Linked DNA regions of Homo sapiens. The protein of the gene in region 2 interacts with the protein of the main gene of each other region in a biochemical or structural test. Each region holds a gene or a part of one and is shown on either strand. Other genes may lie near its edges.

The links.
Region 1: the proteins of PRKCA (region 2) and HTRA4 interact in a test that uses a peptide from one of them, tested with the Homo sapiens proteins (one large-scale study listed by IntAct).
Region 3: the proteins of PRKCA (region 2) and PPP1R14A form a complex in vitro, tested with the Homo sapiens proteins (one study listed by BioGRID).
Region 4: of the proteins of PRKCA (region 2) and NF2, one has a biochemical effect on the other in vitro, tested with the Homo sapiens proteins (one study listed by BioGRID).

The regions. Positions count from the first base shown.
Region 1 is NC_000008.11:38,977,228-38,980,727, reverse strand, and holds part of HTRA4 (serine protease HTRA4 precursor), read right to left. Parts: intron 2,776-3,500; coding exon 2,581-2,775; intron 1,514-2,580; coding exon 1,481-1,513; intron 770-1,480; coding exon of another isoform or gene 737-769; exon of another isoform or gene 243-736; intron 1-242. UniProt on the Homo sapiens protein: Serine protease.
Region 2 is NC_000017.11:66,732,613-66,736,112, reverse strand, and holds part of PRKCA (protein kinase C alpha type), read right to left. Parts: intron 3,426-3,500; coding exon 3,288-3,425; intron 625-3,287; coding exon 451-624; intron 1-450. UniProt on the Homo sapiens protein: Calcium-activated, phospholipid- and diacylglycerol (DAG)-dependent serine/threonine-protein kinase that is involved in positive and negative regulation of cell proliferation, apoptosis, differentiation, migration and adhesion, tumorigenesis, cardiac hypertrophy, angiogenesis, platelet function and inflammation, by directly phosphorylating targets such as RAF1, BCL2, CSPG4, TNNT2/CTNT, or activating signaling cascade involving MAPK1/3 (ERK1/2) and RAP1GAP.
Region 3 is NC_000019.10:38,253,575-38,257,619, reverse strand, and holds the start of PPP1R14A (protein phosphatase 1 regulatory subunit 14A), read left to right. Parts: upstream 1-1,245; 5' UTR 1,246-1,280; coding exon 1,281-1,481; intron 1,482-4,045. UniProt on the Homo sapiens protein: Inhibitor of PPP1CA. Has over 1000-fold higher inhibitory activity when phosphorylated, creating a molecular switch for regulating the phosphorylation status of PPP1CA substrates and smooth muscle contraction.
Region 4 is NC_000022.11:29,676,633-29,680,132, forward strand, and holds part of NF2 (merlin), read left to right. Parts: intron 1-1,563; coding exon 1,564-1,691; intron 1,692-3,500. UniProt on the Homo sapiens protein: Probable regulator of the Hippo/SWH (Sav/Wts/Hpo) signaling pathway, a signaling pathway that plays a pivotal role in tumor suppression by restricting proliferation and promoting apoptosis.

The sequences.
Region 1 (3,500 bases), on a different chromosome or scaffold from region 2:
CTCACTGTGTTGCCCAGGCTGGAGTGCATTGGTGCAACCTTGGCTCATTGCAACCTCTGCCTCCCGGGTTCAAGCGATTCTCCTGCCTCAGCCTCCCAAGTAGCTGGGATTACAGGCGCATGCCACCATGCCCAGTTAATTTTTTTTTTTTTTTGTATGTTAGGTAGAGATGGGGTTTCACCATGTTGGCCAGGCTGGTTTTGAACTCCTGACCTCAGGTGATCCACCCACCTCAGACTCCCAAAGTGCTGGGATTACAGGAGTGAGCCACCGTACCCAGCCAGAAAAGAGATTTCTGATTGTGTTAAACTACAGATTGTAATTCAGTAGGTCGGGGGTATGGCCTGAAATTCTGCATTTCATCCCTGCTCTAGTAAACTCATTGTCTAATGGAGAAGGCAGGAACAAAACAAAGAAAAATGACATGCAATGCTATGAGTAAAAAAAAAAAAACAATCATTTTGCATAAAATTCATTCTAAAAGCAAATGTAATATTTAAACAGGAACCAAAAGCAATCAGTGCAAAGGGACTCAGAAAGGATGATCACATGCTATGTGTCAAACAGCATTGCACTCTCTTAGGTTTTCACATGTATTTGGGCAACTAGAAACCCTGACATTTCCACTAGAGACACGGAATACAATTTAAGAATACATGACACGGCAATGTATTTGAGAGGCCAAGGCAGGCAGCTCACTTGAAGTCAGGAGTGCTGGTTGTGGCTTTTCTCTCATCTATAAGCAGGTCAAGAGGTCAAGACTAAAAACCTGGACAGATGACATTATGTAATTAGCATTTTTAAATGAGAGATAGTTCTTCATATGCAGCATCAAGGAGTCTTCAAGGACCTACATTTCATAGCAAAGCTGGTCATTTGGCATAAACCTGGGTTTAATATCCAGGGCTTTTGGCACAGCATGGTGGCTCATGCCTGTAATCCTAACACTTTGGGAGGCCAAGGCAGGAGGATCACTTGAACTCAGGAGTTTGAGACCAGCCTGGGCAACATAGTGAGACATCGTCTCTATTAAATAAATAAATAAATAAATAAAATCCAGGGCTTTGGGTAACTAGCCAATGAAAACAGAAAGCACGGGGAAGAGAGAAATTTCAAAGGAAGCCGGAGCTAGAACCCTAGTGTTCTCAGTGGGATGAGATCACACACCAGGATAACAATCTTGAATTTTTTCTAACTATTGACTTAAGGTCCAAGAACAGAAAAGCACCATTCCACAGCTCTCTACACAAGAGTGGCACCCAAGTCTGCATCATGGAATATGTAAAGTCCTTTTTTGTTTTTGTTTTTGTAGATATGGTGTCTTGCTGTCTTGCCCAGGCTAGTCTCAAACTCCTGGCCCCAAGCAGTCATCCCAAATGTGCTGGGATTACAGGCATGAGCCACCACCCCTGGCCTGGAATTAATAAAGTCTTTGAAAGTTAAGAAGAAACATGAAGCAACAAGGAAAGTGATCACTTACCAAGTTCACCAGAGGACCACCAGAATTCCCATACTAAAAGCAGAATTTGAAAAAGACATCAGTGAAGCTAATGAATACATTCCCCCTTGTCCTTTACACATAGCTCCCAAAACAGTTTACCAAAAGCAGCCCACCAAGCTCCTATTCCCCCCAGGCCGGCAAAATTGTGCCCCTATCATCACCAATACCAAAGTCAGTGTAGGTAAAGAACTATAGCAGTGGGACCACCACCTTCATTTTTTTTTTTTTTTTTTGAGACGGAGTCTTACTCTGTTGCCCAGGCTGGAATGCAATGGCGCAATCTCGACTCACTGCAACCTCTGCCTCCCGGTTCAAGTGATTCTCCTGCCTCAGCCTGCTGAGTAGCTGGGATTACAGGCACCCGCCACCATGCCCAGCTAATTTTTGTATTTTTAGTAGAGACAGGGTTTCATCATGTTGGCCAGACTGGTCTCGAATGCCTGACCTCATGATCCACCCCCTTCGGCCTCCCAAAGTGCTGGGATTACAGGCATGAGCCACCGTGCCTGGCCAAGGGACCACCACCTTCTTACAGGAGGGGTGACCTCTACAACAGACCACCTAATAGCATGGATGCCAGCGATCACAGCGAACGAGACAGACTCTAACAAAGTGGCATTCCATTCCTCCCACAGTGATTCAACCAAACCTGGACATCCCCAAAGTTCACTCTGACATATTCTTCTCACTGAACTGCCAATATTGTGTGATCTGAGGAAAGGCCTCCTAAGTCAGCAATCCCCAAACTTTTTGGCACAGGGACCGGCTTTGTGGAAGACAATTTTTCCACAGACGGAGGGGTGGTTTGGGATGAAACTGCTCCACCTCAGATCATCGGGCATGAGTTAGATTCTATAAGGAACATGCAATCCAGATCCCTTGCATGCGCAGTTCACAATAGGGTTTGCACTCCTATGAGAATTTAATGCCGCCACTGATCTGACAGGAGGTGGAACTCGGGCAGTCATTCTCACTCGCCCATGGCTCACAGCCTGCTGTGCGGCCCAGTTCCTAACAGGCCATGGACCTGTACTGGTCCACAGCCCATGGGTTGGGCACCTCTGTCCTAAGTGACTTACATTAATTGTGGCATCAATCTGGACGTAGTCCATATCTGAATCCTTCATCCCCAGTTCTTTGCCCCCTCGCTGTTTGGTGCTGACAATTCCTGCAGTAGCTGTGTTCTGCAGAGAAAATGGGCTGCCCAAAGCCACCACAAACTCTCCAGCCCGAAGGTCAGATGATCTTCCCAGCATCAGTACAGGAAGTTCAGCCTGCACGTGCCCAAAAAGGGATGGGGAGGACAGAAAGGGTAAAGAACAAATCACGATCAGAATTGACCAAAGTGTGTGTCTAACACATATATGACGCTGTCTCTATCACCTTGGCCCTTACCACCTGAGAAGCACCCACTCACACAGCTTCTATGATTGCCTTCTACTTCTTCCTCAAAGTCCAACTACCATGAAGCTCTTGAGTGTTAAGATGACTAGGATCATTTCTAAGATCTAAAACAATTACTTTGTAGAAATTACTATTAGTAAACAGCCAGTGAAGTCACTGATGAACATAAACTGACATTAGGAATTTACACAGCACCATTCCAGCTCAAAGCTTAACAGTCAAAGTGAATAAGCCACAAACAGAAAGGAGATCACCCAGGGTGACACTTCTCACACTGTAATGTGCATGCAAATCACCTAGGGATGTTATGTTAATGCAGATTCTGAGTCAGCACATCTATCTGGGTAAAGGCTGAGACTCTGAACTTCTAAAAAGCTCTCAGACACCATGTCAATATATGTGATGTGCAGACTACCAGTACTATGTGTAGGAAGGACTTCAAAGTATTCCTTAGCAACTTTGAGTCCATCGCAGTAATTTCTGATATCCTAAGACAAGTAGAGAAATAATTTTCCCTGAAGCAGCATTTGTTGAAGGAGGAAAAAAAAAAAAAAAAGACTGCTTGATAGTTAATAGAAACAGTTAGAGGCCAAGC
Region 2 (3,500 bases):
CTCAGGAGTTTAAGACCAGCCTGGGAAACATGGTGAAACCCCCGTCTCTACTAAAAATACAAAAATTAGCTGAGTGTGGTGGGGTACATCTGTGGTCTCAACTACTTGAGACTGCAGTGGGCCGTGACTGTGCCACTGCACTCTAGCCTGGGCGAGAGAGTGAGATCCTGTCTCAAAAAAAAAAAAAAAAAAGAAAGAAAGAAAGAAAAAGAAAAAGAAATGTTTGCCGAATTAAATGGCATGAATGCCAAGCAGAGGACATCACAGAGAAGGCATGCCCCAAATCTACCAGTGAGAGAGGTGGGAGGTGGTCCCCAGTCACCTCTGCTTGACATCACAACACACCTTTCTCCAGCCTTCTCCAAAGGAACAAGGATGCTAAGAAGCTTTGGGCTGAGGCGTAGCTCTGAGAGCTGGGTACTGCATCGCAGGGATTCCCAGGGTCCTTACCACTGTCTGGAAGCAGGAGTGCAGCTGCGTCAAGAACGGGGGTTTGTCAAGCAGGGCCAAGACTCGCTTTTCTACCATGGTGCACTCCACGTCATCATCCTGAATCACCACATCCTTCTTCAGGATTTTGATTGCATACAGTTCTTCTGTGCCCTTCCTGTCGGCAAGCATCACCTGAGAACACGTCAAGAACAACCTGAACACTTGTAAGCACATATCTTGGGGGGCAGAGGGAAGGAACCAGGCCAGGTGACGGCTCAGTGACAGTTTGTGCACCTTTGTCAATGTGGAACATAAAAATATTAAACTTTATGTGCAAATTTGTAAATTCTACACATCACTACAAATTCAGTCCCTCCAGCATTTGCAAAACTTCAATGCTGCCAAGATTTGTAAATGGTATAGGCCACTGCCACATAATGGCACTATTTTGGCTGCTAAAATGAATACTCAACATTCTCTATCAGGATTAGTCTGGAATAATGCACATTTTTCAGGAGTATCCTTAGAGTGAAAGCTGACTGACATTTATAATCTCTCAAGTCAAGAACCTAGACTTGAAATCAGTTCCTGCGTCTATGAAATGTGGGGCCACAGAAACCGAATGGAGATACAGGCAAATTGCTGAAGACCCCATGTCAGTATCTCTTAATGATTGTATTTGCTTACTACAAGTGAACATTTAATTTTTAGTTGTGAAAACTATTCATCAACCAGCATTTCTGAGCATCCCTTCTGTTCTGAACACTGAGAAATAGTAACAACACAGTGAACCCACTATAGCTTTTTGGATGCAGTTGCTTTTAAGGAAGTAGAAACCAGGTGAGGACTGTGCACTCTGATCTGAGAGACCAAATAAATGCCTCTTTAGCGACTAAGATGGACCCTAATGTCGCAGGCATTTGAACCAGAGTGACTCCATCTTGAATAAGGGATGGGAAAAATAAGGCTGAGATCTGCTGGGCCGCATTCCCAGGAGGTCAGGCATTCTTAGTCGCAGGATGAGATAGGAGGTCAGCAGGGCTAGTATCACAAGACACAGGTCAGAAAGACCCTGCTGATAAAACAGGATACAGTAAAGAAGCCAGCCAAAACGCACCAAATCCAAGATGGCGATGAGAATAACCTCTGGCTACCCTCATTGCTCATTATATGCATTATTAGCATGTGAAAAGACACTCCCACCAGCACCCCAACAGTTTACAAATGCCATGGCAATGCCCAGAAGTTACCTTATATAGTCTAAAAGATGGAGGAAGCCTCAGTTCTGGGAATTGCCCACCCCTTTCCCAGAAAACTCATGAATAATAAAACCCTTGTTTAGCATACGATCAAGAAATACCTCTAAGTATACTCAGTCAAGCAGCCCATGCTGCTGCTCTGCCTATGGAGTAGCTGTTCTTTCATTTCTTTACTTCTCTAACAAACTGACTTTCACTTTATTCTGTGGACTCGCTCTGAATTCTTTCTTGCTTGAGGTCCAAGAACCCTCCTCTTGGGGTCTGGATCAGGACCCCTTTCTGGTAACATTAAAGTTAAGGAAATAGTTATCTATGGGTTGAGGGTTCAGGGCCCAGCTGGCATGGCAAATTTCTAAATCCCTACAGCTACAAGATAAACCACTCTCGCTAAACTCCCTAGCAGTAGGAGCTATCAGGCCCCTCCTAACTTTGATTGACAACTCAGATCACTATGACTTGGACTGGACAGAGAACTGGCCTTACAAACATTCTTTTCTGTGATGCAACTGCAGACCTGAAGCCAGTTTCAGCAGCTTGCAGAGCCTGCACACAAACTGTTTTTGGGTCCTGTGGTTCACCTTTTGATCTAAAGAGCCAACTTCCACCTTTTTTTATTTATTTACTTTTTTTGAGACGGAGTCTCCCTCTGTTGCCCAGGCTGGAGTGCAGTGGCATGATCTTGGCTTACTGCAACCTCCACCTCCCAGGTTCCAGCGATTCTCCTGCCTCAGCTTCCCGAGTAGCTGGGATCACAGGTGCACACCACCACACCCAGCTAATTTTTGTATTTTTAGTAGAGATGGGGTTTCACCATTTTTGCCAGGCTGGTCTCAAACTCCTGACCTCAAGTGGTCCACCTGCCTTGGCCTCCCAAAGTACTGGGATTACAGGCATGAGCCACCATGCCTAGGCAAATTCCACCTCATTTTAATGCTAAGTCCCCACCCCAAAGTGAACATAAGATGCATGTTACATATATGTTCATCCATTGTGCCTGTGCTAGGCTTCCCTCACAGATAAGTCAAGCTTTCCCCCCAAACCTGTTGAATATGGATGACTCTACTGTGTAACATGGACCCTGTGAGGCATAAAACCCAACCTGCCCTTTCTCTCCTCAAAGAGAGGGCACCTTCATTTCACACCATAGACTTTCTTTTATGGGTTTGCAAACTGATACCACCAATAAACCTCTCCTTTCTACCATTTAGCCATCCTGGTGGTCTTCTGGATGACTGTACAAATCACAGGGAAATCTTTTTTTTTTTTTTTTTTTGAGACGGAGTCTCACTGTCTCCCAGGCTGGAGTGCAGTGGTGCGATCTCGGCTCACTGTAAGCTCCGCCTCCCAGGTTCACGCCATTCTCCTGCCTCAGCCTCCCAAGTAGCTGGGACTACAGGCGCCCACCACCATGCCCAGCTAATTTTTTGTATTTTTAGTAGAGATGGGGCTTCACCGTGTTAGCCAGGATGGTCTTGATCTCCTGACCTTGAATCACAGGGAAATCTAATGTGCTATTCTGCAAACTACGAGGAGAACAAAACTGATTCGACATTCTCTGCAGAAGCCCCTGCAATTTGCAGACGACTGTCCTCTTACCTTTCCAAAACTCCCCTTTCCCAACACCATGAGGAAATTGAAGTCCGTGAGTTTCACTCGGTCAAGGTTGTTGGAAGGTTGTTTCCTGTCTTCAGAGGGACTGATGACTTTGTTGCCAGCAGGGCCAAGTTTGGCTTTCTAAATAACAAGCACAAATGGGAAACACGTGGGTCATTTTTCTGGGGAAAGAGTGACAGAAACCACCGTGTTGTA
Region 3 (4,045 bases), on a different chromosome or scaffold from region 2:
TCTCCTGCCTCAGCCTTCCGAGTAGCTGGGATTACAGGCATGTGCCACCAGGCCCAGCTAATTTTTGTATTTTTAGTAGAGATGGAGTTTCACCATGTTGGCCAGGCTGGTCTTGAACTCCTGACCTCGTGATCCACCCTCCTTGGCCTCCCAAAGTTCTGGGATTACAGGAGTGAGCCACTGCGCCCAGCCACATTTAAATTTTAGAGTATAATTATTGCTGCTTATAATTAGAAGTGAGAAGACTGTTTTGAAGTAAGGGACTTCCCTGGCCACCCTCGCTAAAATTGCAACCTTACCCTCACTCCATTTCTCCTTCTCTGCTTTATATTTCTCCAAAGCACTTATATGATAATAAACTGTATAATACCGTACTTACTGTGTTTCTCATGTATCCCGGCTACAACTGTCAACTGCGTGGGACTGGTTTTGTCTGTTTTGTTCCCTGCTCTATCCCTGGAGCGTAAAGCAGTGTCTGGTATAGAGTGGATACTTAATAGATATTCGTTGAACCGGGCCAGTGGCGGTGGCTCACGCCTGTAATCCCAGCACTTTGGGAGGCGGAGGCAGGCAGATCACTTGAGGTCAGGAGTTCGAGGCCAGCCTGGCCAACATGGCGAAATCCCGTCTCTACTAAAAATACAAAAATTAGCCGGGTGTTGTGGTGCATCCCTGTAATCCCAGCTACTTCGGAGGCTGAGGCAGGAGAATCGCTTGAACCTGGGAGGCGGACGTTGCGGTGAGCCGAGATCGCGCCATTGTACTCCAGCCTGGGCGACAAAGAGAGACATCGACTCAAAAAAAAAAAAATTCGTTGAACGGAATGAGTGAACAAACAAATGGATGGATGAGTGAATGAATGAACGAAGGAACAAGTGACCGCTCGACCTTCTACAGCGACAGCGGCGCAGGCGCTCCCGCACCAACAGCCCCCCACCCCGCCACCGCCAGAGGGCGCAGACAGGCCGGGTCCCGAGTGTCTGTCCCAGGCCCCCGCCCCACAGGATCCCGGCCCGGGAGCCCCCGATGCAGGGACCCGCCCGGGACTCTGGGTCCCCGCCCATACCTCAACTTCGCACGACTGCGTGCCTCAAGCCGACGCAGCGGCCTACTCTCGCACTGCAGACGGGGAAACTGAGGCCTGAGGCGGCCGGGGTGGGGCAGACCTCCCGGCGAGCCCGAGCCCCCGCCCCCGGCTAGCCCCGCCCTGGCCCGTAAGAAGCACCCGGGGCGCGAGGCGAAGGCGCACAGCGCGGGGCCAGGCTGGGTCCAGCAGCGCGATGGCAGCTCAGCGGCTGGGCAAGCGCGTGCTGAGCAAGCTGCAGTCTCCATCGCGGGCCCGCGGGCCAGGGGGCAGTCCCGGGGGGCTGCAGAAGCGGCACGCGCGCGTCACCGTCAAGTATGACCGGCGGGAGCTGCAGCGGCGGCTGGACGTGGAGAAGTGGATCGACGGGCGCCTGGAGGAGCTGTACCGCGGCATGGTGAGCCCGGGGAGGGCTCGGGGGTGGTCGGGGACAGATAGAGCCCGGGCGCGGAGACCCCACGCCCTTGGGGTCTCGGTGCACACTCGCTGGTGCACGGCCAGCCTGGTCTGCACAAGAGGACGAGCGCCCCAGGGCCGGGCACTCATTGGCCTGGCCATCCGTGCTCTATGGCATTGTGCTTGTGGACACACCGAGAGCAACACACAAAGACTTGGGTCTCCAGAGATGTGTCCAAACGCCTGTGGAGGGCCAGGGGTTTAGCATGAGGAGGGAGGAGGCTAAGTTGAGCTGAAACCGCCACGTCTGGAGAAAGAGTGGGGGAAGGGGGGTGTCATAAAGCCAAACACAGACATGGTGACAGGGGAGATACAGCCACACAGAGACCCACGGCAAAGGAAGCAAAAGCAGACACAGATGTGCACAGTGAAGGAAGCTATAGCCACTCACGGACACAGCCCAGAAGTAACAGCCATGCACAAACCCACAAGGACACAAGCGGGGGCTGGGGGGGGGTCACCTACAGTTCAACATATGCTACAGTCACAGCCACCCGCAGACACAGCGGCATGGGCCACAGCCGTAGGCAGACACAGCACAACCCCACTGGAACACAAAATGACTCAAGTTACGGCCCTTCCTTATCTCCTAAAGAAAAAACTGACCACCTTCAAGCACAAGCGCTGATCCGCAGCCACTCAAAGACATAAAACAACAGAAATTGGCCCAGCACAGTGGCTCACGCATTTTGTGAGGCCGGGGCAGGAGGATTGCTTGACGTCAGGAGTTCAACACCAGCCTGGGCAACATGGGGAAAACCTGTCTCTACCAAAAATCTTAAAACTTAGCCGGGCGTGGTGGCATGCACGCACTTGTAATCTCAGCTCCTCAGGAGGCTGAGGTGGGAGGATTGCTTGAGCCTGAGAGGCCAAGGTCACAGTGAGCCAAGATTGCACCACTGCACTCCAGCCTGGGCAACAGAGCGAGACCGTGTCTCAAAAACAAACAAAACCCAACAGAATTTATAACTACACCCAGACATAAAACTGTGTAAGCACCGGGCACGGTGGCTCACGCCTGTAATCCCAGCACTTTGGGAGGCCGAGGCGGGCGGATCACCTGAGGTCAGGAGTTTGAGACCAGCCTGATCAACATGGAGAAATCCCGTCTCTACTAAAAAATACAAAATTAGCCGGGTGTGGTGGCACATGCCTGTAATCCCAGCTACTCGGGAGGAGAATCGCTTGAACCCGGGAGGAGGAGGTTGCGGTGAGCCGAGATCCCGCCATTGCCCTCCAGCCTGGGCAACAAGAGCGAAACTCCGTCTCAAAAACAAACAAACAAACAAAAAACTGTAAGCTATAGGAACAGGTGGACATACAACTGCAGAACCCACCGCTGCTCACAGGCACACAAGAGCCTAAGCCACAGCTACATGTATTGACACACACAGGTACTTCATCACTTGAGTTTCTGCTTGAAGTCACACTTTCAGTGACTTCTTTTTTCTTTTCCTTAGAGGTGGGGCCTCATTGGCCGAGCACAGTGGCTCACGCCTGTAATCCCAGAACTTTGGGAGGCCAAGGTGGGCAGATCACTTGAGGTCAGGAGTACGAGACTAGCCTGGCCAACATGGTGAAACCCTGTCTCTACTAAAATTACAAAAATTAGCCGGGCATGGTGGCAGGCAGCTGTAATCCCAGCTACTTGGGAGGCTGAGGCAGGAGAATCACTTGAACCCGGGAGGCGGAGGTTGCAGTGAGCCAAGATCGCGCCATTGTACTCCACCCTAGGTGACAGAAGGAGACTTTGTCTCAAAAAAAAGAAAAAAGAAAAAGAGATGGGGCCTCGCTATGTTGCTCAGGCTGATCTTGAACTCCTAGGCTCAAGCAATTCTCTCTTGTCGGCCTCCCAAAATGTCAGGATTACAGGCGTGAGCCACTGCGCCTGGCCTTCTGTGACTTCTGTATGCTACAGTGTACACAGGACCCACGAGTCCTCCTCTTCATGGTGCGACAATGGTGGAAGGCATGGCCCTTCTCCCATGGTGACATGCAGTCCCTCTGTTCTCAGACTCACACCTGGGCCCATACAGGTGAACCAATCTGGTTGCTAGTGGCAGGTGGCATCTATGAGGCCATTCTCAGGTGGTGGGCCCCACAGCTGACTGTGGACACATGCTGATGTGTCACACACCCAAGCCAGAGCCACACACCTCACACCTGCAGGACCACAGTCCACTATACGAAGCCACTGCACGATGCCAGGTCCCTCTGCATCCTCGGCCAGCCCCAGGCCCTTGGCATCAGGCTGTGGCCCTGGCAGAGACTCACACACCTGTGTCCTTGCTGAAGCCCCTTCACCACACATGAACCAGGACCATCCAGCCCTGAAGCCCCAGGCCTGAAGCCGACAGCCGGACTTTGGGTTGGGGAGGAAAGGATTCATAACCCCAAGGCTCTCTTGCTCCCTCGACAGCTGGGGACAGCTGGGTCCTATTCCCAGCAGGGGTACTGAGCCAGCCTGCGCTTGGGCCACTGCCTGTAGAGGCCACACTCAGCGCC
Region 4 (3,500 bases), on a different chromosome or scaffold from region 2:
TCATGGATGAGTATTTAGTCTGTTTTCTTTTGCAATTTTGAACAAAATGACACTGAACATCCCTGAACACAAATCTTGACACACACACGTGGATATATTGGTAGAATAAATTCTTATAATAGAACTGTGGGGTCAAATTTTCGATTTTGATACTCTCCAAAGAAGTCATACCAGTTCATGCTCTCACTAGTGGTGCAGCAACTAGTACGCGTTTTTGCTGAAAATTTTTATGATGTGTAACATACACATAGAGAAGTGCCCAAATTACAACTGTACAGTTTGAAGAATTTTCACAAACTGAACATACCCATGTACCCAGCACCCAGATCAGAAAACAGGACATCCCTGGCACCCAAGGAGCCTTCTCTCAGCACCCTTGCAGACGGTCTGCCTCAGGCCTTGAGAATGTCTCAAATGAATGTTCCAAGCCTCTGCTCTTTCCCAGACACTGTCCTAGACTCAATACGGGATCCAAGGATGAAAAAGAGGCAGATTGTTTGCAGGAAACTTGCAAATAGTAGAAAGAAGATACAGCCAAAAAGAAATCTTTTACAGGGTGGAATCGCAGAAGAACCATTAGAGAACCGTAAACACAGCGTTAAGGGACAGCAAAGAAAAGGGTTGCCGGCTGGCTGGGAGGGGCTAGAAAGGCTTTGGTGAGAGATCGTGGTGTTTGAGAAGGGCCTTGAAAGAGGGATGGAGCATAGGGAGGAGAAATGGGATAGGCAGGGGTACAGAGATGGGAAGGCAGTAGTCCAGGGGATAATAAACAATACTGTCTGTGACTTAGTAGGGCAAATAGTAGGAGAAGCCGGGAAGCTAGATTGGGGTCCTCTTTAGATGACCCTTTGTGCTGGGATGAAAGTCCAAAAAAAAAAAAAACTACACCACCCCTGCTTCAGGCCCTACTCCGGTTCCATTGTCCAAGCCCAAGCCCCTCGGTGGGCCGGTGGGGAGCCCTTTGTGGTGGTGCCCATCTCCCACCCCACCTCTCCACACTGCATGGCAGACTCCTGGCACCCTCACTGGGCACTGCCCCACCCATTGCCATACTTCCCGTCCGGCAGACCTTCTCCTGGCACTGCCTTGGATCCCAGCAAAAGCAGCATCTCTTCTAGCCTCTGTTCGCTCCCTGGCTACAGTGTTTACCTTTTTTAACAGTGATGATCTGTGAACACATCTATTTCCTGAACAAGACTTTCAGCTGCTCAAAGCCAAGGATGCTGTCTTGTTTTCTGCATCTCCAGCCCCTTGCACAGGGCCTGGGAGTTTCCTAAATGAAAAAGCGAGTGGGAGTTTGTGTTTGATTCAGCTGAGCATGAAGAACGGTTAGAGATTTGAGGGATGATTTTCCTGGATTTGTAGTCTTTGATATTGTTTACCTGGCAGTGGCAAATGTGGAGGGAGTGAAGTGGAGGGATGGGGACTCGTGGTGGCATTGGGAGGTGGGACCCGAGTTGTGCCCATTGCCTCTGTGGCTGCTGGAGGATCGGTTGTCAACACAGTAGTGTCCTTCTGTGCTTGTATGACCCAAGCTCCTAATCCGAAATTTCTCATTAACAGCCCATGAACCCAATTCCAGCACCGTTGCCTCCTGACATACCAAGCTTCAACCTCATTGGTGACAGCCTGTCTTTCGACTTCAAAGATACTGACATGAAGCGGCTTTCCATGGAGATAGAGAAAGAAAAGTATGTAGCCCCCTGTGCCCTGCTGTGGGCAGCTGTGAACTAGACTGAGTGATTGGGGCCTTGGGAAGCTGGGGCAGAGGTGAGAGGTCGCTGCAGCAGCCTGTCATTACTCCTGCAAAGGTTTGCTCTGCTCTTACACCCTGGAGGAAGAATTTCCTTAATCAGAAATTAAGGACAACAGATCAGCATTCATTCTGAACGAATAAAAATAACAATTTTTATCCAGGATAAAAATAACACTTGACTGGTGAGCTGGAGTTTTTGGTGGCTCTAAGCCTCACCTAAAGTGTAGGACTGGGTTGTTAGCATCTCTGAGTCAGTTCAACTGCTGTTATACTACTGGACTGTAGTCACCTCCTAGTTGTGTTCTCCAGCAACTGGGATCTGTGGTGGTTCCCATGTCTAGAACAAACAAAGGTGAGAGAAGAGACTCAGGCTCGAGGCTAAGGAAAGCTGACAGCTGGTGGGGCCACTTTGCTGCAGTGGGTGGCACTGGGCAGGGCCCCAGCATGGCCTGATCATGGCAGCAATTGCTGAGCTGCCCTCCGTCTTCCCTTTATTGTGGGTAGAAGTGGATCAGAGATGGAAAGGAAAGGATCCCCACTGCAGAGGAAATCTAAGCGAGGGCCCCTAGTTCCCAGAGCTAGCGGTAAGTTGGTTAACTGCTGCTGCTTGCTAGAGGACAACCACAGTAGCTACCATGCATTGAGTGCCTGTGTGTCAGGGGTTTTGGCTTTTGTCTCATTTAATTCCTGCTAACTTACAAACATCAAAATGACATCAAAGGTAGGTTTTCATGTTCCCATTTTATAAGTGAGAACTCAGATTTAGAGAGTTTAGTGAACTCCACCAGCATCCCACAGCTGATGCAGAGGGGTTGAAACCCCTCACCCATCTGACTCTGCAGCCCATGTGCTTTTACCATGGGTGGTATCCTCAGGAAAACCCTTTGGGGAAAGTGTCTCCATGGAGTCCAGTATGGGCAACCAGAACCCAGGCTGTTTTTCTTTGGGCTCTCACACTGAGGGTATAGCTAAGTAGCCAATGAACCAGAGCCTCTAGCTGTCATATCTGCTGTCCATGTTCCTTTCACCATTATCCAGACATATACATTTATGTGGTTGGGATCCGGGATCAGGGTGAAGCTGTTCTGTGTCTGCTATTTTATAGTTTGTATTTTGTTACTATCTTAGTTTGTTTTGGCTACTGTAACAAAATACCAGAGGCTGGGTAGCTTATAAACAACAGAAATTTATTTCTTGGCCAGGCACAGTGGCTCATGCCTGTAATTCCAGCACTTTGGGAGTCCAAGGGGGGCAGATCTCTTGAGCCAGGAGTTCAAGACCAGCCTGGGCAACATGGCAAAACCCCATTTCTACTAAGAATACAAAAATTAGCTGGGTGTGGTGGCACATGCCTGTGGTCCCAGCTACTCGGGAGGCTGAGGTGGGAGGATTGCTTGAGCCTGGGAGGCAGAGGTTGCAGTGAGCCCAGATTGCACCACTGCACTCCAGCCTGGGCAACAGAGAGACACCCTGTCTCAAAAAAAAAAAAAAGAAAAGAAAGAAATTGATTTCTCACAGTTTGGGAGGCTGAGAAGGCCAAGATCAAGGCACGGGCAGAGGTGGAGTCTAGTGAGGGCATTCTTGCTGGTTCATAATCAGCCCCTTTTTGCTGCATGCTCACCCAGTGGAAGGGATGAGGGGTCTCTCTGGAGTCTCTTTTATAAGGGCACTAATCCCATTCATGAGGCTCTACCCTCATGACTGCCCAAAGGCCCCACCTCCTGACACTTTTTTTTTTTTTGAG